Regions from separate parts of the Homo sapiens genome. Here all the other regions are linked to region 2. The links come from fine-mapping of genetic effects on gene expression. A gene starts in region 2. Each other region holds a variant in brackets. All regions are shown on one strand. Distances are from middle to middle.

The links.
Region 1: its variant is fine-mapped to the expression of BCAS1 in whole blood (TOPMed, PIP above 0.99). The same link has a PIP of 0.9 or more in blood mononuclear cells.
Region 3: its variant is fine-mapped to the expression of BCAS1 in visceral fat (GTEx, PIP above 0.99).

The regions. Positions count from the first base shown.
Region 1 is chr20:54,042,040-54,052,122 of GRCh38, reverse strand. The region is part of intron 3 of BCAS1 (brain enriched myelin associated protein 1); the gene reads left to right. Among named protein-coding and RNA genes, the nearest start is that of MIR4756, 21 kb to the left of the region's middle. The variant C/T (reference allele first, on the strand shown) is at 3,793.
Region 2 is chr20:54,065,152-54,075,234 of GRCh38, reverse strand. It overlaps BCAS1 (brain enriched myelin associated protein 1), which reads left to right and starts at 4,641. Exons shown (of 13, transcript NM_001366298.2): 1 at 4,641-4,802. It overlaps MIR4756 (microRNA 4756), which reads left to right and starts at 6,750; the gene lies at 6,750-6,827. RefSeq lists an enhancer at 5,048-5,922.
Region 3 is chr20:53,995,546-54,005,628 of GRCh38, reverse strand. BCAS1 (brain enriched myelin associated protein 1) reads left to right here. Exons shown (of 13, transcript NM_001366298.2): 5 at 9,579-9,737. Among named protein-coding and RNA genes, the nearest start is that of MIR4756, 68 kb to the left of the region's middle. The variant C/T (reference allele first, on the strand shown) is at 5,622.

The sequences.
Region 1 (10,083 bases), 23 kb after region 2:
TGTGAATTATACTTCAATCAGATAAATCTGATTTTTGTAAATGCTGTTAAGGTACAATGAAGTTTTTTAAAAATCAGCATAGTTGGCTGGGTGCAGTGGCTCACGCGTGTAATCCCAGCACTTTTGGAGGCCGAGACAGGTGGATCACCTGAGGTTGGGAGTTTGAGACCAGCCTGGCCAACGTGGTGAAACCCCGTCTCTACTAAAAATACAAAAATTAGCTGGGCGTGGTGACACACGTCTGTAATCCCAGCTACTCTGGAGGTTGAGGAAGGAGAATCTCTTGAACCCAGGGAGGCAGAGGTTGCAGTGAGCCAAGATCGTGCCACGGCACTCCAGCCTAGGAGACAGACAGAGACCTCATCTCAACAACAACAACAACAACAACAACAACAAACAAAAAAAAAACCAGCATAGTCAAAAGCAGCTCACATCAACTAAAGAAAAAAAATAAATTCAATAAAGAATGGGGGGAAAGATCATTTGCTATGTTAGAAGGGTGTCTTCTGCTCAACCAGTTCTTTTGCTTCCTCTGGATTCATCACTGGGGGCAGGAGGAGTCTGCACAAAAGAAAGTAATGTGATGGGGAGGTGTTTTGTGAAGAGATGACATCTCTTAGCTATTTTGTCAGCCCATTCCTCCCATATACTGCCCAAGAGAGGGAGACCTCAGGAGACTGTCATCTGGTACCTCTTCACCTCCCCCCAATACATGTGGTATGTTAATTTATTGCATCTCATTGAATCAGACAACTTCAAGTAGGACCACACTTCACAGTTGAGCACATCACCCTCCTGTTGCGTACAGAGATCCCCTGTTTTGTTCACATGCAAACTTTGGTGGATTGTGAAGGAGAAACTCAATCTCCCATGGCTCAGAGATCAGGCAGTTAGAAAGGACAGAACATTTAGTCCCACACACCACTGTCAGGCCACACAAAATTAATCATCCTAGAAAGAGAATATGCTGTTCCATTTAGTGAAACATTACCACGGAGGTGCCACAACCCCTATTAATATGCAACAATCACTTTCCCACCAATAAGAAAGGAGAATGACGGCTGCTCCTTACCTTTTTCACTCAAAAGCTAAAAAGAGAAGAGAAAGCCTAAGCCTAGAGATTCTGGGAAGGAAATACCTAAAAAGGCTTTTTACCACCTTGAGAATATAGTTGTTTTCTAGTTTGTTTCTTTGCAAAAGACCCACCTAAAGAGATAGATGGCCAGTATTAGCATAAAACCAAGCTCTGTGAGAGTGCAGCTAATGCTGATGTGATTTAGTTAACATTTGTTCTTCAATAACAAAAACATAGTTTTAAAAGGCACATATGTTCTCAAGGGGGACCCCAGAGTCATCTTCTCACTCAAGCAGAGCTGAGGTGTTGGGGAGGGACGCAAGGGGAGGCAGAGCGTGGACGGCCAGGGCAAAGAAGGCAGGTGGGCAAGTGAGATGACACGTTGGCCTCGCAGGTGACATCCAGGACTAGACGAGGTAATGCATTAAGAGCTAAGCGCATCCCATTCATGAAATTGTAATATCACTGACGTGTATCTGTGTATGTACTGTATCTGTGCTCTATACGTAAAAAGAATGAGTTTTGTTCATCCTCTCCCATAGAACCATTTTCGCCCTCTTGGGATTAATACCATCCCCACTGAGAGTGCATACACTAGGGAGTGCAACTTACTTATGCAATTTCTTCATGTATGAGACCACAGAGTATTATAGCTAAGAGTCCAGCACAAGGCACGGTGCCCTTCCTCCCATCAAATGCTCACATCTAATCTTCAGCACCTATGAGTATGTGACCTTACATGGCAAAAGGACTTGGCAGATGTGACTAAGGAATGTGAGATGATGATATTATCCTGGATTATCCAGGTGGACCCAGTGTGATCACAAGGGTCTTCATGAGAGGGAGGCAGAAGGGTTGGAGTAGGAAAAGGTGTGATTATGGGAGCAGATGTCACAAAGAGAGAGAGGCTTAAAGATGCTACACTGCTGGACTGGAAGCTGGAGAATGGAGCCACAAGCCAAGGAATGTAGGTGACCTCTGGATACCAGAGAAAAGAAGGAAATAGATTCTCCCCTACAGCTTCTAGAAGCTGACCCATTTTTGACCTACAGGCTTCAGAACTGTAATATATTTGTGCTGGGGCATTTGGGATAATTCATTACAGCAATCGGAAATGGAACCATATCCTCTCAAGCATTGGACTCTAACAGACCCAAGCATAGGTTTTGGCTCTGCCACTCACTAGCTGTACAACCTTGGCAAGGAAGTTTATTCTGAGTCTCATCTGTAAAACTGGAATAATAGTATGAACTTTGTAGGGGAGCTCTAAAAACAGCAGCTGGCACAAGATAAAAGTGCTGAAATAAAGGAGTCCGGGCAAAACTAAAAGTAGAGGCTATTGGGATGGGTGCAGTGGCTCACGCCTAAAATCCCAGCACTCTGGGAGGCTGAGGTGGGAGGATTGCTTGAGTCCAGGAGTTTGAGTTCAGCCTGGGCAACATAGAGACCCCATCTCTATTTAAAAAAAAAAAAAAAGTAGAGGCTATTTTCATACTTATTCTTTACCATTGGCTTTCCCTGACATATCACCTGACCAGATTTTCCCACCTGCATATTATTTATGCCTAAAACTTCATAGATCTTTGGAGAAATAAAAATGCCTGATTTTTGGCCTTCTTTGATTCCTTTCTAGCAAATTTATGACATTAGTTCTCAGGCCTCACTGCTAACGTATGGCAGAGACTAAGACATGCCTTCCCTGCCAGGACACGTCATTTTCCAGAAACAGAAGGAATGTTTGACCTGGATAAAAGGTTTCTAAAATTAGTATTTTCCTTTTTTGCTCCTAGTCATTGTTCCTAAAAAGAATAGACTAATTTTGCTTTTCTTAAAAAAAAGATGTAAGTGGAATCATTTTATTGGATTGAAAATTCTAACTTGAGAAAAGTGCTCCTGCCAATAACATAATGAGTGAGAAGAGAAGCATTTGCCAATATCAATGCCTAGTCAAAGTGGAATGGGAGACCTGATGCCAAAAAGCATAGCTCCCTGATGTAGTAAAAAATATAGGCAACAGCACTTGTCTGGAAGGGAGCAAATACATGTGTTCTCCTAGTGTCCACTATTTCCCTCCAATTGATCTTATTTTTTATCTGTTTCCAAACTCAAGTAAAAGTCCCTGAGAGCAGGACGCTTGCCATCCTTTCTTGTTATGAGGGTCCCAGAGCTCAGCACAAGGCCTGAGATACACTAAAGACTTAGAAATGGTTGATCAATGAACAGTGGCATATTAAGCCAGTGGTAGCAGAGGAATAAAATAATAAGGCCGAAGGGCAAGTTCCCAGACTCTGCTGCACTCAGCTTCAAGGAATGCAACCCTGGATAAGTAAATAGCACTTTTAATTTGAGCAAGAAGTCTGGAGGTGGCAGTTCTAAATTTGGTACAGCAGTCTGACAGCCTCATCAAAACACCAAGTACATGAGCCAATTGTGTCACTCCTGCTCACAAGATGGCTGTCACAGAACCAAACATCACATCTCTACATCATGGGATCCAAAAGCAGGAGAGGAAAGGCCAAACTTTGCCACCATTTTTTTTTCTCCTTGTATTATGCGAGGAAGGAGGATCCTTCCCTGAAGCCTCTGCCACCATGTAGGCATCCTCTTATTGGCCAGAGCTACATCACATGGCCCATACCAGCTGCATGGGATACTGGGAATCAAGCATCTCTTTGAGATGCAAGTGAATAATAATAATACATGGTTGGGGCTGGAGA[C/T]GATTGGCTATTGGGCAGGCCACAAACAGTGTCTGCCAGAGGTGATTCCAAAGAATTATTAGAATTGAGCAAAGGAAAGTAGTTCATATCCTCACTCTGGCCTTTCAAAAGACATTAAGGAGATCTAACTCACATCCTAAACACCACTTTTCTCTCTCCTCACATTGCTATATGTCTCTCACTCAAGAGGCTCCCTATCCTCAACTCTCCACCTTGAAACTCTGTGAGACACCCCATCCTCATGAGGTAGGGGAATAGGGTCTGGAGGCGGGGAAGCTAAGGACTTCCTAGAACTAAATCAAGCAGAAAACCCACAACTTTCTATGCTCAACTATGGATGTAACTGCACTTCAGCTATGGCAGGAAATATCCTCTTCATTTGCATAGGGTGTACACCAAGTAAATAACTTTGTAACTTCCCTTCATCCTCTTCATTTACATAGGGCATACACCAAGTAACCAATGGGAAACCACTAGAGGGTATTTAAACCCCAGAAATTTCTGTAACCAGCACTCTTGAGCCACTTGCTCAAACCTGCTCCCACTCTGTGGAGTGTACTTTCATTTCTATAAATCTGTGCTTTCATTGCTTTGTGCATTTTGTCCAATTTTTTTGTTCAAAACACCAAGAACCTGGACAACTCTCCACTGGTAACACTCACAGGCACTCTCCTTTCTTCTTTCCCTCCATTGCACTGTATCACCACTGAGTCTAAAGTAATAACAGAGAGTTCTGAACACTGGCTCTCCCAGATGGCCCAACAGCTCCTTGTGCCTCTGTCTTCCTTGGGAGTGAGCAAGAGCCCTGGGGAAATCTCATCCTTCTCAAACTCAGTGCTTTTTCTCACCAAAAAGTCTAGTGGAGAATTCCTGTTAGATAAAATTATCTTCCCTATTGCATTATTGTGGTTGATAGTCTCCAAAGATGCACACATACAACCCACCACGCAATAACCCATGCTTCCTGGTATTCACACCCCTGTGTAGTCCCCTCTGGGCTGGTCCTATATAACCAACAGTATGTAGTAGAAGGGATGACACAGGACTTTCAAGAAGCCTTTTAAGAAGACTCGGAGCTTCTGCCTTGTCTCTTGCAACACTAGCTCTGAGAAAGGCTAGACACAATATCAGAAGTTCTACCCTGAGATTGCCATGCTGTGAGAGAGCCCAAGCTAGTCACATGAAGAAGCCATGAGGCAAGAGAGAGGTACCCAGCCAGTTCCCAAATATTCCAGCCATCCCAGTCCAGGAACCAGACCTGTGATTAAAGAAGACATCATGGGCATTTCAGCTAATAGATGCCGTATGAGGAAGGACCATAGGAACCAGCCCATAGCCAGAACTAAAGCTCCAGACATATGTCCCTGTGTGAGCCGTCCCAGCCATCTTCATCCTTTCAAGGCACCCCAGCTGTGGCTCCAGACATCATAGAGCAGAAATAAGCTGATCCTATCCTCTCTCTGCCTGAATTCTTTTTTTTTTTTTTTGAGACAGAGTCTCACTCTGTCACCCAGGCTGGAGTGCAGTGGCACGATCTTGGCTTGCTGCAACCTCCACGTCCCAGATCAAGTGATTCTCCTGCCTCAGCCTCTTGTATAGCTGGGATTACAGGCACGTGCCACCATGTCTGGCTAATTTTTGTATTTTTAGTACAGACTGGTTTTCACCATGTTGGCCAGGCTGGTCTGGAACTCCTTGACTTCAGGTGATCTGCCCATCTCAGCCTCCCAAAGTGCTAGAATTACAGGTATGAGCCACTGCACCTGGCATCTGCCTGAATTCTTTTTTTTTTTTTTTTTTTTGAGATGGAGTCTCGCGCTGTCCACCAGGCTGGAGTGCAGTGGCATGATCTTGGCTCACTGCAACCTCTGCCTTCCAGCTTCAAGTGATTCTCCTGCCTCAGCCTCCCAAGTAGCTGGGATTACAGGTGCCCGCCACCACACCCAGCTAATCTTCTGTATTTTTAGTACAGACGGGGTTCCACTATGTTGGGCAGGCTGGTCTCAAACTCCTGACCTCGTGATCCACCCACCTTGGCCTCCCAAAGTGCTGGGATTACAGGCATGAGCCACCGCACCCGGCCCTGAATTCTTAATGCATGGAATCATGACCTAATAAAATGGTGGTTAAGTCAATCATTTTGGGGATGCTTGTTACACAGCCATAGATAACTGAAATAACTATTAGTATGCATTTTAATTCTTTGTATTTTATTTTTACATGCATATATACTTACATACATACCAATTAACATATATGAATAAATGCAATCATATTTTCTGTTATTGTTGTTTTGGTGAAACCTGTCTTTTTCTTTTTCTTATTGGCTTCTTCCTCATCTCACATCTTCCCTACCCCCTCCAAGGACACCCAAGCTAACAACCTAATATTTCTTCTTTCATATTTTTCTCTTTGTTCTATACTTTGTAAAAGACAAATCTGAGACACAATAAAATTTCAAAGAGTGTATCTGAATAGAGGCAATTCATTAATTTGAGAAAAGAAAACCAAAAGGGAATTAGTGTTTTGATGACAAAGCATTACATGCCAGAATTAAGGGAAAATGCAGAGGCATAATATAAAATGTGTTTGATGTGTTACAATTACACAGTTGCCTTATTTGATCATCTCATTGGAAGGTACCCAGTTATATAATTTTAAGTTTGTTGACTGTTTCTGATTGGTTGAGCTCAAGTTCTGTTTTTCTTTAGCATAGGCATTTACAAGAAACAGTTCGAGTTGTTTTGCTTATGTCTGCAAATCAAGCAAGGTTTAGCTCATTTATGTGGTCTAACAGGCTTTGTCCGCTCAGGGATTCTTCAGGTCTGGTCTTTATTTTAATTTACTTTAACTAGCCCCATACAGACATTTCCCAGCACATCCATTAATAGTGTTTGTTTTTTTTTAATTGTAATAATCTTCCCCATCTCAACTCCAAATTCAACTGGTATAACTTTAATTCATTTTTTTTAAAGCTACAATGTACTTCAAGGTATAGACATACTATAATTCATTCAGCCATTATGCTAATTTTGGGCATTCAGTTTTTTTCTTATTTTTCTCTGACAATTTTTACCTGGGCGTAAGTTTTTTGTTTTGTTTTGTTTTTTTTTTTTTTTTGAGATGAGGTCTTGCTCTGTCACCCAGCTGGAGTGCAATGGCATGATCATCACTCACTGCAGCCTTGACCTCCAGGGCTCAAGGAATCCTCTTGCCTCAGCCTCCTGTGTAGCTGGGATCACAGGCACACACCACCACACCTGGCTAATTTTTTAGTTTTTTTGTAAAGATGAGGTCTCCCTTTGTTATCCAGGCTGGTCTCAAACTCCTGGGCTCAAGTGACTGTCCCTCCTTGGCCTCCCACATTGCTGGGATTAGAGGCACGAGTCACAGCACTCCTCTGGCATAAGTATTTTTAAACTCGTAATGTTTATCCAATATTAAAAGTTATTTGGAATACACTTAGAAAATTTCTTTTTTTCTTTTTTTTTTTGAGACAGAGTCTCCTTCCGCTGCCCAAGCTGGAGTGCAGTGGTATGATCTCAGCTCACTGCAACCTCCGCCTCCTGGGTTCAAGCGATTGTCATGCCTCAGCCTCCCTAGTAGCTGAGATTACAGGCGCGTGCCACCGCATCTGGCTAATTTTTGTATTTTTAGTAGAGATGGGGTTGCACTGTGTTGGCCAGGCTGGTCTCAAACTCCTGACCTCAGGTGATCTGCCCACCTTGGCCTCCCAAAGTGCTGGGATTATAGGCATGAGCCACCGCGCCCGGCCGGAAAATTTCTTCTTCACATTTTTCAAAAATAAAACATTGGCATTTCTGTTTTAAATTTTTAAGGACTTTTTTGTACTTACCATGACAGATACTCTGGACACAACTTACTGTTCCATGACTCATACAGTCTGATTTTAACTGTCATGCAACTGCTGTTGAGTAATATGCAACTTTCTCTTTGCCTCTTTGGATGGAGAAGAAAACAAGGCAGCACAGTTGGGCTCCAAAGATAAAAACATGGGCAGGGTTTCAAGATCACTCATCTCTGTCTTGGAGGATAGACCAAGAGAGATAGGACAGACCAAGAGACAACATGAAAAAAACATGAAAAGAGAAACAGCATTGAGAAATAACAACAGCTGCACTCAATTCTTTTCCTCAAGGTGCATTTTAACCAGATCTTGAAATAGAATAAACACACCTACAATTCTAATCCTAGAGTGGACATTTTTTTAAAATCAGCTTTTCATATCCTTTTACCACACCAAAAAGAACTTACCAACAATTTTCATTTAACAAAAATAAAAATAATCAGCGAGATCAAAGAAATGGTAAGGTGCGCTTCAAGTTTCTGGAAGTTTATCAATAAAAGCAGCATACTGTATTAGTGGGTAGGATCCATTATATGCAAAGCATACCCCAAAGAGCAAATGTTTCTGGGAACAAGAACTGAAAAATGTAAGCAGAGCCTGCCTCCTTGTGTGGGTGCAATAGCAGTGCCCAATAGCAGTGACTCGCAGAGTTGTCCCTGGGCCAGCAGCATCACATCACCTGGGTACCGGTTAGATGTGCAGTTTCTGTAGCCGGAGCCCAGACCTCCTGAGTCAGAAACACCCCCTTCCCTGGGGGTGGGGCCCAGCTATCTGTTCCCACAACCCCTCCCGGGTATTCTTGCACTAGCTCAAGTCTGAGGACCATGTAAGAACTGGCTCAAGGCTCTGAATGAAATGGAGTTTGCAGGGAACTGGAAAGCGTCCTTGTTTATAGGGCTCCACACAGCTTCAAGGATGGCTGCCCTGGGAAACCCTGAGCCAATAATAAGATATTTCAATAACAGCCTGATTTTAGGACTTTTAAATGAAATTTCCCAATTCAAAAAAATATAAACACTGTGTTGGCCAAACCATCAGCAGACCTCATAGTTGGCAACCTCCGATAGTGTGAGGTTTATTTTTTTCCCTACCTCAAATCCCTCTAAAAAGATGGCTATAAAAAAAATCATCGTCATCATCATCATCATCATCATCATCATCATCAAGTTATCATAGCTTCAAGCAATGAAACATTGAAATCCTGTAACCAATTTCAGCTGTGCTTGCAGATTTGTGGGCTCTCCAGGCATCCTGCCCGTCACAATGTGCATCCCATCTGTGTTTTCCACAGAGAGGGACAGTGGTGGGATGTTACCAGTGGCTGGCCCCCTTTGCAGCTTTCTGTCACGTAGTCTTAAGCCAGTAAGTTGGCTATGTGGTTAATTCATGAGTCCTCTTAAAAATGCCTTCTGAGAGTTACATCAGCTCCAGGTGATATAAAAAGAAAAGCTGGATTTTCTGAATTTGCCAAGCAGAGGCTCAGACTCTGCAACATGGAGATGTCCCTAAGGCCATGACACTCTCAGCAAGCAGGGCCCACCTGGCCTATCAGCCCCTCCATTCAAAGCTGATGCTCATTGGTTAGAACCTGCCTCGCTGCTGGGCCAGCCCTAGGCAAATTGGGAAATAGGTCAAGTGTTCAGTCCACTTTGAATCCCACCTCTCATTTCTAGTTCCCTACTTTCATTTTTTCTTTTCATTATTTCTTCATTTCTTAATGGATGGGGTAGGTGCATACACATAGCAAACATTCTGAGCGATATACATAATAAGATAAGGCAGAGAAAAAATCCCCACCCTAACTCTGATGGCTCCCCAAGCCCCATCCCAAATTTCCTTCCTTAGAAGTAAATACTTTACAGTTTCTTATATCCAGAGGTATCCCAGGCATGTCTATTTATAAGTTGTCTCCTCAACCTCCCGACACCATTTTTTAAAAACAAATGGAAACATACTGTACGTGCTGTTGGGCACAGCTTTTTCTTTCCTTACTAAAATTCCTTGGGGAATTTTAATGCCTGTGGAATATTTCATTGTAGGGACATATGATTATTTATTTTTTTAAACTTTTATCTAGGTTCAGATTACATGTGCAGGTTTGTTATAAGGTAAACTCATGTCATGGGGGTTTGTTGTACAGATTATTTTTTCACCCGGGTACTAAGCCTAGTACCCACTAGTTATTTTTTCTGATCGACTTCCTCCTCCCACCCTCAAGTAGGCTCAGTGCCTGTCATTCCCCTCTTTGTGTCCCTGTGTCCTCAAGGACATATGATAATTTATTTAACCAGGTTTCTACTAATAAGCGTTTAGGTCATTTCCAGTTTTTTGCCACAACTACAGTAGTCCAGCAAATAGTTCCATACGTAAGCCTTTGTACCCCTATGCAATTTTATTTCTAGGATAACATTTTAGAAGTGGAA
Region 2 (10,083 bases):
ACTGGCAGGAGACCAGCTGTCACTGACAGGCCCTGGGTGCATGACCACACTATAATGGCTGGGTCATGCCTTCCGCTGGTTCAGTGATCAAAAACACAGCCAACATGGCTTAGCATGAGCGAGAAGCCTGGGTGGAGGACGGAATATTTGCAGAGAGGCAGGGGCAGGTCTGAAAGAGGGTCCTGGGGAGATTTCCAATTTCAGTTTTCCAATGACTCTTTTTGATTCAAAAACCAGCTCTATCCAGATTTTCAGGAAAGCAGTTTGATAACAGGAGATGACAGCCACATGTGCTTGTCAATATTTGAAGAGGGGTGGAGATCGTAAAGAGAGAAGATTAAGAGGCAAACCAAGTTGGGAGCATGATGGTGAGCACCACCTGAAGTCTGTGTAGCAAGGAGAAACTTTACTCTTAGTGAACTCCCTGCTTTGTCGACACCGGGAAGTAAATTCTTCCACCAAGAAGTTTGCACTTTTGAAGACTTGTTGCTACCTCCACCCAGGGCCCTGAGCTTGGTTTATTGCTCTACAGTTGCCATATTGAAAATCTTAACACAGCTGACCCTTGAACATCACGGGGATTAGGGGCATCAATCCTGTGCAGTTGAAAATACAAGTATAACTTCTGACTTTGCAGAAACTTAACTACTCATAAGCTACTGTTGACCAGAATCCTTACTAATAACATAAACATGTTTTCTATGTTTTATGTATTAACACGTTTTCTATGTTATATGTATTACATTTGTATATTGCATTCTTACAATAAAGTAAGCTAGAGAAAAGAAAATGGTATTAAGAACATTAAAAAGACAACGCATTCTAAGAAACATCATAAGGAAGAGAAAATATATTTACTATTCATTAAGTAGACATGGATCATCATAAAGGTTTTCTTCCTTGTCATCTTCACATTGCATAGGCTGAGGAAGAGGAGGAAGAAGAGGGGTTGGTCCTGTTGTCTCAGGGGTGGCAGAAGAAGGGAAAAAATCCATGTCTAAGTGGACTCATGCAGTTCAAACCCTTGTGGTTCAAGGGTCAGTTGTAGTGTTATCTTTGAACTTGGGTTGAGTAAGTAAAATCTGATGAGACAATGAAGCATAGTCATGAGATACAAGCAATATGCAAGTCTACTGTTCATTGCCACCTATTCACATATAACATCCATGATGCCCATGAGCAGAGAATGCCAGTGAGTTCATGACTATTCAGTAAGCCTCAAAGCAAGTAAAACACATGTGAGTTACAGCTGCAATTGAGTATGTGGAGGCACTGACACCCCAAGAGTCCAGGCTTTCCACGCAAATCAGAAATTATCTTCAATACAGAAAAAAGGCAGCACATTCTAAGAAACACAAACAACAAAAGAATCCTATCCTAGCCTTTCTTACCCAGGTTACCTCCCTGTAAGGGCCAACCACTTGTGCTGAAAATGATAACATAGCAAGACAGAAATATAGGGCAGCTTAGAGTTTCTTTTTCTTTTGATTTTTCCTTATTCATCAATAAACTGAAGATAGAGAGCATTAGTAGAATGGGTGAGTATCCAGAGGTAGAGTAAAAACAGTTGAATGATGACTTCTATGCAGCGTTTACACTGTTTTAGTGAGAACAGACTACGGGGGCCCCGTAACTAACTACAAAATACAAGTCGTATGATTTTGGTGATTCTGCCCTCGAGTTCATTGCATTTCAAACCAGCATGGCTTGATCTAAAGACGGATGGCAAAACTCACGCTGATCACTTACATTTTTATTTTTTCTTCCCTTAGAATGACTTCAAATAATAAGTAAAATACATGACAGGTAGAGAAAGAGACCAGGAAGGAGAGAAAACAGCTTTATGTTTCATACCTTTAACGGTACTTTTCCCTGCTTTTAGAACAAAGGGCTCATCGTTTTTGTTTTGCACTGGGTTCAGCAGATTATGTAGCCGGTCCTGCCTCATCACCACTCCTGACTACACCAGCTGATGCTTGGTGATGGTCTACAGTTTGCCAGACCCTTCATCACCACTCCTGACTACACCAGCTGATGCTTGGTGATGGTCTACAGTTTGCCAGACCCTTCATCACCACTCCTGACTACACCAGCTGATGCTTGGTGATGGTCTACAGTTTGCCAGACCCTTCATCACCACTCCTGACTACACCAGCTGATCCTTGGTAATGATCTACAGTTTGCCAGATCCTTCATCACCACTCCTGACTACACCAGCTGATGCTTGGTGATGGTCTACAGTTTGCCAGACCCTTCATCACCACTCCTGACTACACCAGCTGATCCTTGGTGATGATCTACAGTTTGCCAGATCCTTCATCACCACTCCTGACTACACCAGCTGATGCTTGATGATGGTCTACAGTTTGCCAGACCCTTCATCACCACTCCTGACTACACCAGCTGATCCTTGGTGATGATCTACAGTTTGCCAGATCCTTCATCACCACTCCTGACTACACCAGCTGATCTTTGGTGATGGTCTACAGTTTGCCAGACCCTTCATCACCACTCCTGACTACACCAGCTGATCCTTGGTGATGGTCTACAGTTTGCCAGATCCTTCATCAACACCCTTGACTACACCAGCTGATGCTTGGTGATGGTCTACGTTTTGCCAGACACACTGCTGAGTGCCCCCACCTGAATGATTTTTCTTAATCTCCTAAATCACTCATATCCCTAAACCTTATGTTTTTCTTCTGTAAAATGGGAGCAAAAGATCTTAATTTCACTGTGGACATAAATGAAATGGACGGATAAACACAAAAGGCTTTGCAAAGACTAATGCCATCCAAATGGCAGTTACTGCCATGTATAATTTAAAAGAGAGCAAGACAATGGGGAGTGTTAGCTCACGCCTATAATCCCAGCACTTTGGGAGACTGAGGCGGGTGGATCACTTGAGGTCAGGAGTTCCAGACCAGCCTGGCCAACATGGAGAAACCCCACCTCTACTAAAAATACAAAAATTAGCCAGGCATGGTGGTGCACACCTGTAGTCCCAGCTACTTAGGAGGCTGAGGCAACAGAATTGCTTGAACCTGGGAGGCAGAGGTTGCAGTGAGCCGAGATAACACCACTGCACTCCAGTCTGGATGACAAAGCAAGACTCCGTCTTAAAAAAAAAAAAAAAAAGAATGAACAAGTCCAATCAGCCAGGAGTTGCAGAGTACCTACTCTATCATAGAGGGATCCCCATCCTCGTTTTGCAGGGTGCCAGGAGTTGGGGATACAAGAATAGATGCAAAATAAACACAAAGGAGCACACAGCTGAGGGGGCTGACAGAGACTTAGGGAAGTACAGTAGCTTGCTCATAATTCCACAGCCGATCAGTAAGAATCAAGATCCGAGCCCTTGTCTGTCTCAACCCAGGGCCAGAGCTCAAGCTCCTGAGCCTCCAGGCTTGGGTCAGCACAGAGCGTGTGCATGGCAGCTGCTTAATAATTGGGTTTACTACATTCCAGATTGACATGTACAGTGCTGAGCTGGAATCGACTTTACAACCCTAATTACGGTGTGCCTGGTTGTGTATTCAGCATTTATTTAAATAGTATTTTTTTTCTTAAATGTTGATTTCTGAAAGAGGCCTTCCCCAGCTCTCTCTATTTCTCTCCCTTAGCTGCCTTGGCTTTTCTTTTATAATGAGAATCACACCCTGTAATTCTATGTTTATATTTACAGGATTCTATGTCCAATGACACTGAGTGCAAGAAGGGTAGAGACCCAGCATCTTTTACTCACCTCTTTAAACTCTGGCTTATATATATAGCCTGGTGCTTGACAAGTATTCATGATAGGGGTTAAGCTGAGTATACTGTTGAATAAAACCACAATAATTATTGGTCGCAATTCTCTTGAATGTCTTCTCCAGAGCACTAAGTAGTGTAACTTATCAAGTTTCCTTTCTTGCATTGGCTGTTAGGAAGCTCAAAGCCATATCTGCAAACCCTTCATAGCAAGTCTGTAAATCAACAAGAGCATTTATTTTTGATCCTGTTCTCATTTGATGTTCCAAATTTTGTTCTTCAATCTTCTTTTGTTACATGTTATTTCATGCTCTCATAATCTATTGTATATGTCCTTGTAAGACACTTTAAACAACATCCTTGCTTGAATTAAATAAATTGCATAGCCTGTCGAATTTCTGGCCTGCAAAGAAAAAGAATGCCCTTTCCAACATCATGGTATGTCTCCAGAGCAATAAACCACCCTCAGGTTACCTGATTTCTGGTGTCCAAACCCCTTTGGGAATAAGGTTTACATGACTAGGGGTAGTTGAGTGGATGAGAAGCTATTTCCTTCCAATTAGGTGGTTAGGTGGTGGTGGAGGTGGTGTTCTGAAGTCAGCAGACAGAACTACAAAATCTCACAGAACGTGTTTTCCCTGCTCTGACCATGACCTACGGTTACTGGGGAAGGAAACTGCTTCCCCAGGTCAACCCGGCAGCCTCAGTAGGTGAGGGGCACTGGGTAGAATACTTGGGGTGCCAGGGAGGCATTAATGCGAGAGGAGTCAGGTGCTCAGTTTTTATTGGAGTTGGGAGGGCAGCCCCACATCAGGAAGAGAACCTGTTTCTGCAGGATGGTCCGGGGAGAAGGGAGGACTCCACCCAGGCTTGTGTTTGCCCTGCTCTGTGTATTCAGCCAGCAGGCTCTGCACAAGGAAGCAAAGTGCAGGGAGCCAGGCTCCACCGACAGCCAGGCACTGGGCAGCACGCACTGGAGACCCAGGACCCTGTGCAGGAGCAGCTCCGGGTGACACGAGGGGACTGAAGATACTCCCACAGGGGCTCAGCAGGTAACTGCTTTCAGATCCTTTAGGCATGGCTGGAGGGTTTGCTGTTTGTGGTAGACGGTGTCATATAGAGGCCAGGGGTCAGACAGGGTCAAGTTTGATCCCAGCTCTGCCTTCTGTTCACTGTGTGGCCTTGGATATGTGTAAGCCTCAGTTCCACTATCTGTGAAATGGACCCAAAGATAGCACTCATCTCAAAGTTTTTAGTTTTACAAGGAGCAAATGACAATGTGGTCAGTGTTAGGCGCATAGCCACATAAATAACTCCTATTTGGTGGAACTATTGAGGGTCATTTCAAGCACAGGACATGGGGAGAAGTCACTGGATGGAGGGATAGGCTGTGTGATTTGGGGATCCGTCAGGGCAAGAATGCCCCATAGCCGAGTGGAATCTGAGCCTTCACCTCAGGCATTGCCTAAAGAAGTGGGAGGACAAGAAAAAGGACTTGTGGAGTGCCTTTTGTGAATCTTATTTAACGCTCAAGACCACCCTATGAGGCAGCTGCTGATTCAAATCCTGGCTTCAGGACCCCTGCTGTTTACATCTCCCTCTGAACCAGTTTCCTGCCTGGAAGAGTCATTGCGATTAGAATGCGGGTGCGCTGCAGCCACACCGCCAGATGCCAGCCCCAGCTCCACCCTGGGCTGGCTGGGTGCCCTGGAGCAGGTTCCCTCAGCCCTCTGGGCCTCAGTTTCCTCATCTGTAAAGTGAACCTAATAACAGTACTGAGATCAAAGGGCTGAGAGGACTCTACTGCCCGTAAATACCTGTGCACTTAGTAACTCTTAGCTGTGGTTCTTGTTTTCGCTGTTACCATCGTCTCCATTTTACAACTAGGAACATGAAGCTGGGTGAAGAGGGAGCTGCATCTGGTTCCAGGTCTCATGGAAAGGATGCTGTGGAACTGGAGTCCAGTCGGGCCTGGGATGAGGGTGCAGCCAGTGAGACTCTCACCTTGGGCACGAAATGTAAGGGATGCCAAAAAACTCAGTCATGGAGATAAACGGTATGTTAACACAACATTTTTAAAAGTCAGAATTAATGGCAAGACACCCGTGATGAACAAACTATGAACATGTTACAGAAAGATAAGATCAGGAACAGCGGTAATTTTGATTTTCACAAATTTCATGTTAAAATACTATTCATCTCCATGGCTGAGCTTTTTGGTGTCCCTTACATTGTTCCCCCGGAGTCCAGGGCCTGATCCGCCTCAGCCTCCTGGGGATCCTGAGCTGATCACAGCAGCTTCAGGCCCTGGGTGTATATACTCAGGGTATGTAGAGGGTGCTTCCTCCTAAATAAAGACAACAGACGGGGCGGGGCATGCTAAAGTAGTTTCTCATTTAAGTGAGGGTGGGGGAACAAACCAATGTCCCAAATCACAGAAGATTCTTTTTTTCCAAAGAGTTCTGGAACCCAGAAGGGTTTTGTTTTTAGGAAAAAGGCATGAGCTTTGGGAAAAGCAATGGGCCCGTTAAAGCCCATGGATTCTGCCTGCTTTACCATGACAAGAGATGTGGAGGGAGAGGAATTGAAAAAGGCTTTGGGTTGGGGGCGGGGGTACCTTTGCACCTTGCAGGCTCATCTGTCCTGCTGGAGTATTAGATGTGACTTGATTGTCTCTGTGTCTGCAGCTTCTCTTCAAGCCAAGTGCCCTGCCCTGAAGCAGTTCAGGATTTGAGTGCCTGAGTCACGTGGACCCAGGTTCAAACCCCAGGTGTGCCTCCCCGTAGCTTTCTGACTGCTACTCTTGGGCAAGTAGGACTAGTAAGGTGCCTACCCTCATGGAGGTGACGTTCGTGAGATGAGGGGATGGCATTGCTCAGCCTTGGTTTCTTTATCTGTGCAATCAGGGAATAATGGGACTCTGCAAGGGAAAAGGAGACAATGTGTGTGAAGTGCCTGGCACCAGGGTCAGGGCAAGGGTGAAGCCAGTGAGCACCTGGGGGATAAAATGCAGGGAGGCGCTCACTCTCTGCTGCCGATTCTGCACCAGAGATGGTTGCCTTCCTATATTTTGTGTCCTGCTATGCTCACCCTGGTGCTGCCTGGCACATAGTAAGCCTCCAATTAAAATTACCTGCGATTATCATGCACTTAACAATGTTTGGTGCAATAATAAGACTATGAGAGCGAGCTCTAAGATTTTTAGGATTACCATCCGTTTGTGCAAACATAATTAAGTACTCCGAAAGCAAAACATCAATCACCAAGCAGCCCTAAAACATCCAAGGTGATTTTGATCAAGGCACCCCTGCCCCTGGACCCACAAAGTCCCATACCAGGAATCAGGGCTTGGGCAGTTCAGTGAGGACTGGATTTCAGTTCCCTGTGTCCCCTTGTACAGGAGGCAACCTGTAGCACTGTACCTGGCACTCCTGATAATAGCTGCCGTGTTCCTAGCACTGTGCGGGCACACACATGGAGCTGCAGGACTGTGGGGCAGGCAAAGCGGGGTTGTTCTTTCCTCCTGCAAGGTCTTTACTGATGTTGGGGGCAGAGGGCTGGTTCTGCTGGGTGTGCCAGCCTGGCCATGTTGGCGTCACCCTCAGCTGAGCAGTGAGGAGGGCCCCTGGGTTACCTACATTCCATTGCATTGATCGAAGGTGTTGCTTGTTTACTTGGTGACTAATTCTGTCACCATTCCACCCTTCAAAACCACCCCCCCTCCCATTCAACAGTCGTCTAGCTGCCTGCTGGTGATGAAGTTTCAGAAGTGCTTTCTCCAGGCCAGCTTGCATGGGGTTTGGCGTTTGGCCTGTTTCCAGGAGGAGGGCCTATTATTAATCTGTAACTACAAGGAGGCGACATGGACCATCAATCACTGTGTAAAAGAGGAGGGATTTGAGGGCAGCTTCCAGGAGGCCAATTCACTCATGGATCAGAACACAGAACTAACTCAATTATAACAATAATAAGATAAATGAATAATATTAGCAATAACTAACGTTTACTCACCTGAGTACTGCCAAGCCCTGGCGCTAAATCCTTACAGTGATTATCAGTGACCCTTCAATTGTTCAATCCTCACTTTATTTGATTTATTTATTTACTTATTGAGAGAGTTTCATTCTGTCGCTCAGGCTGGAGTGCAGCGGTGTGATCTCGGCTCACTGCAACCTCCGCTTCCTGGGTTCAAGCGATTCTCCTGCCTCAGCCTCCCAAGTAGCTGGGATTACAGGCATTGTGCCTCCACATCTGGCTAATTTTTGTATTTTTAGTAGAGACAGGGTTGCGCCATGTTGGCCAGGATGGTCTCAAACACCTGACCTCAAGTGATCCACCCACCTCAGCCTCCCAAACTGCTGGGATTACAGGCATGAGCCACAGCGCCCGGCCTAATCCTCACTTTAGATTGTACCATATATATTCCTTGCCTAGTTATAATTTTCTCATTGCAAGAATGAATATGCAGGAAATATTTTCTATTCCATGTTCTATTATATTACATATAAATATTTCATAAAACTATAACATCACTTATACAGCAGAAGAGACAGTAGAAAGTATGAAAATAGAAAAGTTAAAAGTCTAAACTCTGGACTTGAGTTTGCGAGGGTTAAGTCCTCATTCTCCCACTTACTAGAAGATGATCTGTATTAGTCAGCTTGGGCTGTGGTAACCAAAACACCACAGACTAGGTGGCTTAAACAACAGTCATTTTTGTTTTCTCATAGTTCTGGAGGCTGGAAGTCCAAGATCAAGGTTCTGGCCGATGCATTTCTGGTGAGACCACTCTTTCTGGCTAGCCAACAGCTGCCTTCTTGCTGTGTCCTCACACGGTTGAGAGAGAGACAGAGAGAGCTCTTTGGTGTCTCTTTTTATAATGACACTAATTCTATCAGATCAAGGTCCACCCTTCTGATTTCATTTAGCCTTGATTCCTTAGAGGCCACATTTCCAAATGCAGTCATATTGCACGTTAGGGCTTCAACACGAATCCAACACGAATTTTGGAAGGACACATTTCAATCCATAGCATGATCTTAAGTGAGGAGTTTAAGTTCCCTGGGCTCAGGTTCTGCATCTGTAAAATGGGGACAATAAAAATACCTGCCTCGGCCGGGCCCGGTGGCTCACGCCTGTAATCCCAGCACTTTGGGAGGCCAAGGCGGGCGGATCACGAGGTCAGGAGATCGAGACCATCCTGGCTAACACGGGGAAACCCCGTCTCTACCAAAAATACAAAAAATTAGCCGGGCGTGGTGGCAGGCGCCTGTAGTCCCAGCTACTCGGGAGACTGAGGCAGGAGAATGGTGTGAACCCGGGAGACGGAGCTTGCAGTGAGCCGAAATGGCGCCACTGCACTCCAGCCTGGGCGACAGAGCCAGACTTCGCCTCAAAAAAAAAAAAAGAAAAAAAATACCTGCCTCATCGGGTTCTGATAAGGAAGCTGTGAGTTAACACAGAGAAGCATTCAGAGCAATGGCTGGCATAAGGTAGGCGCTACAAAAATATTAGGTATTACTACTGCTAATGTATGGTCCATTTTATTTACTGCTTATACTAACAGCTTATCTCTATTCCTCAGCTGCTGTGCACCAGCCACCCAGTTATACAACACATGGGCCACACCCTTCTAATCTTCACAGGAGCTCCACGCAAGGAATCTATTATGGTCCTTCCCTCCACCCCTCACTTCTCAGACACGGAGCCAGGGCTTATGCATATGGCCAGGGTGAGCCAGAGGGGAGCCCAGGCAGAGGGCTTGCGCTATTTCACCACCACAGACGAATTTACTCACGTGCTTTTCAGAAATGCAGATCCCTAGGTGACACCTGGCTACAAACACGAGGAGAACATCCCCAAGTCCAGGCACTAGAGCAGGGCCCCTCAATATCAGCACTAGCGACCCTCAGCAAAGCAGACAATTCTTCGCTGGGGGAAGGGGGCGGTCCTTGGCATTGCAGGGTATGTAGCAGCGTCCCCAGCCTCTACCCACCGGATACCAGTGCACGCCCCCCAAAGCTGAACCGTGACTATCAAAACTGCATGCAGGCATTTCCAAATGCCCCTTCGGGGCCAAAATCGCTCCTGACTCCAGAAACGCTGTGCTCCACTTATTGTGAGGGAGAAACAAAGAACAGCATATTTCCAAGGAGAAAACGTTTAGCAAAGCAATGTAAGTCATCGAGGAATAGGACAAGATATCCAAAATATGAAATATAGATATATAGTCCTGGAAAATTGGTACCAAAATAAAATACCCTAAACATTGTAAATATGTTATATATATAGTGTGTGTGAGATAGATAGATAAAGTAGATGATAGATAGATAG
Region 3 (10,083 bases), 70 kb after region 2:
AAAAAGACTAATGTAATTGGTCGGGGTGGAATCTGGGTATTGGCATTTGTTTAAAAAGCTGCCCAGGTGATTCTAAAATCCAGTTATGCTGAGACCCACTGGGCTGATGAAATTAACTTGTCTTTTTTTTCTTTTTATCTTGAGACAGGGTCTTGCTCTGTCACCCAGGCTGGAGTGCAATGGCACAATCATAGCTCACTGCAGCCTTGACCTCCCTGGCTCAAGCAATTCTCCTGCCTCAGCCTCCCAAGTAGCTAGGACCACAGGTGCATGCCACCATGCCTGGCTAATTTCTGTTTTGTTTTGTTTTGTTTTGTTTTGTTTTTGCTTTGTTTCATAGAGACAAGGTCTCACTATATTGCCCAGGCTGGTCTTGAACTCCTGTGTTCAAGCAATTCTCCTGCATTGACCTCCCAAATTGCTGGGATTACAGATGTGAGCCACTGTGCTTAGCCTCACTTGTCTTTTTATCAGAGTACTTGTCCCTATCTACTGACCTTTATCCACCATAAGGCTCCAAGCATCTAGGAGAGAAGACAGTGTCAGATTCATTTTTGTAAATCTCACAGCTTACCACAGTGCTCAGTAATTAAATTAAACACAATAATAATAGCTAACCATTACTGAATGCTTCCTCTGTACTGCACATTCTCCTAAGTCCTTTATATGGATTATCCCATTTACTCCCTCAACAACCCTAAAAGGCAGGTGCTACTCATCACCCCACTTTTACAAATGAGCAAATTGCAACCTAGAGTTAGGGAAAGTGCAGTACTGCAGAGGTGTAGATGGCAGAGCAGGGATTGGACCTGGGCAGCTGGCCTCTGCACAGCTTGTATGTAGTCACATTGAGGGTTAGGATTTGGGGAGACACAAACTTTAAGTCCACAATACACAGTGAAAGCATAACTTCAGAGCCCATGCTAATGCTGTGTGGCCTCTGCACAGCTTGTATGTAATGTAACTACCCCCACATAGTTACTGAGTGAGGATGAATTCATGAATGGTGCTCCTGGGCAACACCTTACTTAGGCCTGTGGGGAATTTCTCAGTCTAGATTTATGTCTTGTGCCACTTTCATAATGACTCATCTTCAAGACACCTGTTCAGTTATTCATGTAATAGCTTTATTTAAAGTTTACTTTATATTGAACTTCACCTACACAAAAATATCCATAATATGAAAAGGTTGATGCTGGACATATTTTTCTAGTGCACATTGTCTTAGTTCAGGCTGCTATCAAAGTACCATAGACTGGATGGCTTATAAACAACAGAAATTGATATCTCACAGTTTTGGAGGCTATAAGTCTGAAATCAAGATGCCAGCATGGTTGGGTTCTTGTGAGGACCCTCTTCTGGGTTGCAGATGGCCAGCTTCTCATTGCACCCTGGAATGATGGAAAGAGGACTAGAACGCTCGCTGGGGTCTCTTTTATAAGAGCACTAATCCTATTCATGGGGGCTCCACCCCATGACCTAGTCATCTCCCCAAGGCCCCACCTCCTAATACCATCACATCAGAAGTTAGGATTTGAACACATGAATTTTGGGGAGACACAAACTTTCAGTCCACAATACACATTAAAAGAATAACTGTGTGTGTGCGCGGACATACCACCTAAAATAAAATCGCCTTCCTCATACGTATATCAACACTCATCTGCTATAAATAGAATTTGCAGCCATCCTTCTAATCAACCAGCTTAACCGCTTGGATCCCAGTTATACCTCAGAGTTAGTTTTTAAAAGTTCAACTCATATTAGAACCTGTTTTTAAAAAGTACATCTCTTCCAAAGCAAAACACTTTTCTCCCAGAATTAACCAGAAAACCTAACAAGACTATTAAGACCATGGCTTTTATTTGCTTTTAGTTTTATGAAGCTTCAGCTGCTCATGAGGCATTTCACAAGAAATATGCTTCCATTTAGAAAGAGTCCTGGGGCTGATTGAAACCCTTGTAGAATATGTGTATTATTGTTACTTTTAAAATACTCACCAAAATGTGCTTTTTGTATTTTTGCAGCCATTTCACAAAAGCCCCATTTTTAATGCAAACTATTCCAACCTGGCCTTTGGTGTTAGGCTGGTCTAAGTGCATAATCTAAGTACCAACTGAGTGCTGAGAACTGTGGTATAGAAATTCAGAGAAGGGGACAGAGTCCATGGGTGGCCTGACCCAGAAAAACGTCGGTGGGAGAGGGAGACTTGATTCCAATCGTGAAGAATAGATTTCAAAAGGGAAGACAGAAGCTGGAGAGCACAGTGTACAAAGGCATAGAAAAAAGAATTTACTCCATATCCTTTCATCCTTTAACAAATGTTTCTCCTGAATCTACTCTGTGTCAGGAACTTTGCAAATTGTATGGCATTTTCATTGCTTTTTTTTTTTTTTTTTTTTGTCTGTTTGGCTAACATTTATTGGACACTTCTATACTAGGCATTATGCTAAGGAATTTACATGCATTATTTCTTATGGAAACTCACAACGAATTATACCAGGCAAGGTTTATTATTAATCTTGTGTTCCATGAGACGACCTTGTCTCAGAGAGGCTAAGACCCCAGCTGGGGTTCCTCAACCTGTGAGTGGAGCTGGGAGGTGAATATGGAGTCTTTGTCAGGCACTGGAACTTTTATCAACCACTTGATCTTGTTGTGAATGAGACACACGCAGTGCCTGTCCTCAAATGCCCAGTTGAGCAGGTGATACTGGCAATTAATCAATTATGATTCAGTATGATGGGTACTGATGAGAGGGGAATTAGGAAAACAAATAGCAGTAAGAGATAATGAGCTTCAATTCTTGTTTGCAAAATTACTCAATTGAATATCAGTCTATGGGAAAGAAAGAGAGATTGATCATTGACATTCATTCTTCCCTTCATTTATTCATTTATAAATAATGTTCATAATCATTATCACTAATTAATATAAAAAGATCTGCTACACCCCTAGAACAAGATTTATTATTAATTTTGGTGACAAAGTTCATATTTCAAATACACTTATTAATTTCAAATTTAGGGAGCTCACTTCTTTTCAGACCTGATTTGATCCTCATTGCTGTTCACATGATAATGTAGCTCAAGATTCATGCATCACCAAAAACGAACTCACCTGTAGCCAGCTACAGGAAGTCAACACTCTCTACTATTAACAGAGTAGAAGCTTTCAGCTAAGGGAGAGTTACAGGAACTGGCTTTGCCCTCTTGCCTAAAACAGATGAAAACTTGGACAAAAAAACCAAACAACAATTTTTAAGACTGTTTTAAGATATCAGGCAACAAGGATAGGTGTTCTCTGAGAGACGGGACATAAGAGATAATCCCTGTGTCTGCTCCTACCTACTGCCTTGAGAGGGTTTCCAGCCCATAGCCTAGGGGGGAGGAACTGAGGCAGAGCCCAGCAGGCTCCCTGAGCCCAAGGTGGCCAGAGTTCATAGACAAAGCATCAGAGGAGAGAGAGAGATACACAGAGAGCAAACTCCAAGGGTCTGTCAAAGGTCCTCACATAGTATGAGGCAGAGAGCTGACCAATATGTTCATATGAGGAAACTAGCAAAGACTGAAGGGGGAAAAAAAAAAAACCAACCACCAGAAAGGCATTTACACAGGGCCAGAGAGAGTGCCTTCTCTCACCAGCCAGACTAGAAAACCTCATTATTAATAAGGCACTGGGTAGAGTAGTCACAGGGTCTTTCCTCATTAGCGAGAAAATATTAGCTTCCTAGACTAGACACGATTTTGGTCCTACCTAATGTAACTGCCAATGGGTTATTTTTGCCCGCTGCCCAGACAGAGCCAATTTATCAAGACAGGGGAATGGCAATAGAGAAAGAGTTTACTACACATAGAGCCAATTAAATGTGAGATTAGAACTTTTTTATTACTCAAATCAGCTTCCCCCCAAAATTCAGAGGCTAGAGTTTTTTAAGGTCAGTTTGGTGGGCAGATTGCTAAGGCGTGGAGAATGCTGATTAGTTGATTGGGGGCAGAATCATAGGACATCAGAGATGTCCTCTTGTACTGAGTCAGTTCTTGGGTGGGGGCCGCAAGTCCAGATGAGCCAGACCAGAATGCAGGGTCTGAAAAATATCTCAAACACCAATATTAGGTTTTACAGCAGTAATGTTATCCATAAGAACAACTGGGGAGGTGAAGAATCTTGTGGCCTCTGGCTGTATGACTCCTGAGCCATAATTTCTAATGTTGTGTCTAATTTGCTAGTTTTACAAAGGTGGACTGGTCCCCAAGAATAAAGGGGGCTTGTTTGGGGAAGGGACTGTTATTATCTTTGTTTCAAAGTTAAACTATAACTAAATTCCTCCCGAAGTTAGTGTGGCCTACCCCCAGGAATGAACAAGGGCAGCTTGGAAGTTAAAGGCAAGATGGTGTTGGTTAGGTCAGATCTCTTTCACAGTCATAATTTTTTCACTCATAATTTTTGCAAAGTCAGTTTCACGAACAAATCTTAAAAGCCAGAACTAAAAGGATCAAACTGATTTTAAGTATCTTAACTACCTCCAAAAACAAAGTTCAAAAATATTTATAGGAACAAAAAATATCCAGCCACCCAAACAGGTAAGATTCACAATGTCTGACATGCAAACAAAAATTACCAGGGAAGCAAAGAAGCAGGAAAATGTAACTCATGATGTGAAGAGAAATCAACCAAAACCTACCCAGAACTGACACAGGTGTTAGAATTGGCAAAAAAATAAAAAGGATTAGCATAAATGTGTCTCATATGTTTGGAAAGTTAAGTAGAGACATAGAAGATATATTTTTAAAATCCAAATCAAATTTCTAGAGATAAAAACTACAGTGTGTGAGGTAAAAAATACACTGGATGACATTAACAACAGATTAGACAATGCAGAAAAAAAAATTGTGAATTTAAATACACAGCAATAGAAACTATCCAAAAGGAACCACAGGGCAGTGGGTGAAAAGGAAGAGGGCTTTTTCAAAAAGAAGGAAGAAAGGAACATTAATGAGCTACAGGATAACTTCAAGTAGGCTAGTAGGCAGGTAATTGGAGTCCATGAAAGGAGAGAAAAGGAGAGAAGAAAAAATATTTGAAATCATAATGGCTAAAAATTGATGACTGATACTCTCACTTGGATTAAATCATTTGTTCATTCATTCACTAGTAATTTTTGAGATTGTACCATGTGCACAAGTCTGGGTGCTGGGGAAACATAAGGGAGAAAAAGAACCTTCATTGGTTTCTATTCCAGTGAAGGGAGAGGAACAAAACACAAAATGACAAGTGAGAGTTTTAATATAATTCTCAGTCTTGCCACTGAGAGCCAGATAACTCTTTGTCCTGGGCATTGCAGGAATTTTAGCAGCATGCCTGGCATCTATCCTCCAGATACCAGTGGTAAATCACTAACCCGCTACTCGTGACAATCAAAAAAATGTCTCCAGACATTACCAGATGTCCTTAGGGGGAAGAGGAGCCAGTAATATATTAGAAGTGAAATCTACTAGGAGAAAAATAAAGCAATTAGCAGCATCAGATATGCCGGGATATATTATAGCAACTTAAAGTAGAGTGGTAAAGAAAGACCTCGATGAAAACGTGGCCATTGGCTCAGGCGCAGTGGCTCATGC[C/T]TGTAATCCTAGCACTTTGGGAGGCCGAGGTGAGGGGATTACCTGAGGTCAGGAGTTCAAGACCAGCCTGGCCAACACGGTGAAACCCCATCTCTACTGAAAATACAAAAATTAGACAGGCATGGTGGCACACACTGTAATCCCAGCTACTTGGGAGGCTGAGGCAGGAAAATGGCTTGAGCCAGGGAGACAGAGGTTGCAGTGAGTCAAGATCATGCCACTGCACTCCAGCCTGGGTGACAGAGTGAGACTCTGTCTCAAAAAAAAAGAAAAAAGTGACAATTGAAAAAGACTTGAAAGAAGTAAGGTCACATGCTCCTGGCAGGCAGAAGCTCAGCCCAGATGCAAAGGTCCTGAGGCAACAGCCTACTTGACATGTTCAAAGAAGAGCAAGCAGGTCACTGGGGTTACAAAAGAGTGACCCAGGGGGAAAATAAAACAAAAAAAAACGGGCAGGAAAGCAATGAGAATGGAATGGAAGAGGGGCACTTCTCCAGGAATGAGCAGGAGGGTCCTGTTGTCACAAGGAGTGAGGAATGCTACTTAGGCAAAAACAAATTAATGCTTACGCTTGCCAACTGTGGCCTTGGACATGATGTTTAAACCTCTTTGGGCCTCAGTTTTCTCATCTGTAATTTGCCTTGCACAATCTTGGCAAAGATTAGATAAGATAGATTTGTGAAGGCACCTCGTAACTGTAAAGCTATACAAGCATAAACAAGCATTGTTTAAGACGTAAGGATGACATGGTTTAAACAAGTTATAAGTGCAGTACTTTTTGGGAGAGTTAAGTTATGAAGGGTTTTTACTGGTGGAATTTATGGATGTAGTCTATATTTATATACACTCCCTATGAGGATCTTGGTTTTCCACCACCTGGATTTAATTTATATGATGTTACATTTTACTGCACACACTATATAAGTTTAGCAAAGTTGACACTCATAGCCAAATAATCTATAGAATTTTAAGATGTTCAGTTCTGACAGGCCTGACTTATAATCCCCATATTGGCCTCTCTCAAGCTGTGTGACCTTAGACAAGTAACCTAAACTCTCTGAGCCTCATTTCATTGTTTGAAACTGTTAATTGTAATATTTGTCTCAGAAGATTGTTGTAAAGATTAAGTGACATATGTTTAATGCATTTATTTGTATAGTGGTTTGCATGCTGTAAATGTAAAATATTTGACGTATTGGCATTGTATATTATTCTATAATAAATAATAATATATTAAGATTAAGCGACCTTGTTCAAATTATACTAGCTTAGGAAAGAGAAAGCACTGGTGTACATGTAATGCTTAATAAGTAGTTGACGTAATTTGCACATCTGTCCTTACCTAAATCTCATGTTGAATTGTAATCCCCTATGCTGGAGGTTTGGCCTGGTGAAAGATCACAGGGGTGGATCCATCATGAATGGCTTGGGCCATCTCCTTGGTGGTAACTGAGCTCTTGCTCTATGTTCACACATGATATGGTCATTTGCAAGTTTGTCCCACCACCCCCTCCACTCTTTCTCTCTTGCTCCTGCTCTGACCATGTGCTGTGCCTGCTCCCACTTCTCCTTCCGCCATGATTGTAAGCTTCCTGAGGCCTCCCAGAAGCCAAGCAGATGCCAGTCCCATGCTTCCTGTAAAGGCTGCAGAACTGTGAGCCAATGAAACCTCTTTTCTTTATAAATTACCCAGAATCAGGTATGTCTTTATAACAACGCAAAAAATGGCCCAATACAATCGTCCATTAAAATGAGTTGAATTGTATCTCAGTGGTTGGGATAGTCAACCCATATCAATTTATACTGCTTGTCCAGACACTGCCAACCCCAGAGGAGAAAGTATAAAATCCAGGAGTCTAAATGCAGTGCCACCATATCCCACTCTCCACTACTGAGAGAAGGGGTCAAAATAGAAATACCAAGTCTTCTGTGGGCTTCTGCCACCTCACACACTGCGAATTGTTAGAAATCGCTTTTGAGGAAACAGAAGTGTCTCCTTTCATTCTCCTCTAAGTAAGGGAACTGGCAGCATGGGGGCAGGGAGATGGTGTGGAGAAGGCGGAACCCACAGCCCTGGGATGAAAGGAAGGACTACACGGGGATGAAAGGGAGGGCGAAGAGTGAAGACGATGCTCAACCAGCAGGTGAGAGTCGAGTCCGCCTCCCTCACTCCACCCACCTCCAGACCAAGCTCCCCACTGCCAGGCCACAACCACATGCACCAACCTGCCCAGCCCGGATACGTTTTAGGTCTCACTTGTCACAACCTCCGGTGCACCAAACAGCTTCTCAGATGCACCGATGTACCTGCAGGACCTCTCTGTTGAAACCTTCTCATTTTTTGCAAGAATATTCATCAAGTTTATATAATTTGCATACCTCTTGACCCAAAAATTTCATTTTTGATAATTTACCCAAAGAAAATATAGATACATGAGTATTTAAAAATAAAAGTGTGAGATGATCACTTTACTACTGCTTATAATACTCTAGATGTACAACTATACACACTGTGAATGTCCATCAATAAGGATATTAGACAATAAACAATGTTATAACCAAGCAATGGAATAAATGTCACCTGAGTCGTAAAGAATGAGGCAGGTTTAGCTGTGTTGCAATGGGAAGTTTCTGTACTACTTTGTCACATGAGAATTTATGCTGGTACAGATAGCACTATTCTATGTTTGTAAAATTTTCATAAATGATACATATTTATTGAATGCCTTCTGTGGGCCTCGCTGTCCTTGGTACTTGAGAAAAGCACTGAGTGAAGTAGATATTATCCCTGTCTTTGTCGAGTTTGTAGTCTAATGGGAGTATGAGGAAAAGCACAAAGACTGAGAAGTAAACAGAACTGCTGACACAGCAAAGATTTTTAAAAGGGCAAGGGACTCTGGTGGAGACGACAGTGGTGGGAGGACAGCCTTAGATGAATGTTTAGGGACAATCTCTCCAAAGAGATGACACTTATGACCTTAAGGATGGATGGAAATTACCTACGGGCAGACAGAGGAGCAGAATGTTTCAAACAGAGAGCCAGAAGTTTGGAAATAACCTGTGGTATGTTTGAAAAACTCAAAGAAAGTGGGCCAGAAAATGGAATGAAGGAGCACGTGGTACAGAGAGGATGGAGATTTAGGCAGGGGCAGACCATGTTAGACGTTGGAGATCCTGCATCAGAGTTTGGGCTTGACTCCAAGAGCTGTCAGAAGCTACTGGAGGGTGGTAAGGAGTGGGAAGATGGGATCTGTTGAGTAAAGAATGTATTGTGAGGGTCAAGAGCCCAACCAGAGACAAGGCCAGGGCTGTTGCAGTCAGAAGGTGGAGAGGCAGTAGCTTCCTGTCCTGGGGTCGTGAGAGGTGAGATGGTGAAAGGAAGGCAGATTCAGAACGCATCCTACCCTCCTGAGGAGGTCGGGGAGAAAATCAGTTCCCCTATCACACCCCTTGCACAGATGAACCTCATATCTCAAAAGCAAAATAGTTATTTTTAAACACCAGTACTTTTTCTTTTTCTTTTTCTTTTTTTTTTTTTTTTTTTTTAGTTGATATAATCCAACTCTGTGGAAATTGTGGGAAACGCCATCTCTGGGGATAATGTACACATCATAGATAAGGAGACTATAAAGATGGAAAATATCGATACCTTACACAACTTCTTTGCAGAATTGGAAGAAAAGGGTTTTTGTTTGAAATGCAACGTGCACTGCTGTGTTTGTTACCCTTTGGCTCCAAACAATGTCCCTCCAACCAACAGCAAATGCTGAATATGTTAGAAAGAGGGGGAGGGAAGGAAGAGTGACTCTTATAATCTCATGATTGTTCTGCACGCCTGTGGGCAGAAGAAGTATGGCTGGAATTAGGGGGTAAGAGAGAAAGGGGTGTGAAGCAAAAGTATGACTTTGAGAGTTCACATTCAGCAAGTGGCAACTGTGACAACTGTTTTGCCCCTAGGACATAGTTGACGGCAAGGAAAAAGAAGGACAAGAACTTGGAACTGCGGATTGCTCTGTCCCTGGGGACCCAGAAGGACTGGAGACTGCAAAGGACGATTCCCAGGCAGCAGCTATAGCAGAGAATAATAATTCCATCATGAGTTTCTTTAAAACTCTGGTAAGCAGTTTTCTCCTCTTTTCCCCTCCACTCTATTGCTCAAAAGTTTTGTTAATTCTAAGAATAATGCACATTTGAATGTTATTGTACTAAATGAATTATCATGGTGCTGTTGGAGCATGGGAGAGAACAGGGACAAGATATGCTTCATAAGAAAGTTGTGTTATATCAGACTTTTAGCAAGAGAGCCCCTGAAGCTCGGAACCATGGTATAAGCAGTGGATGCCCAAATCATGTAACATGGGCTGTGTTGTAATGGAATTCTATTGCAATTGAATGTCTTATGTTCATTGATCATAAAAATAATTGAAAAATATCTCCCTGTGTTGTGGACATCTCAAAGCAG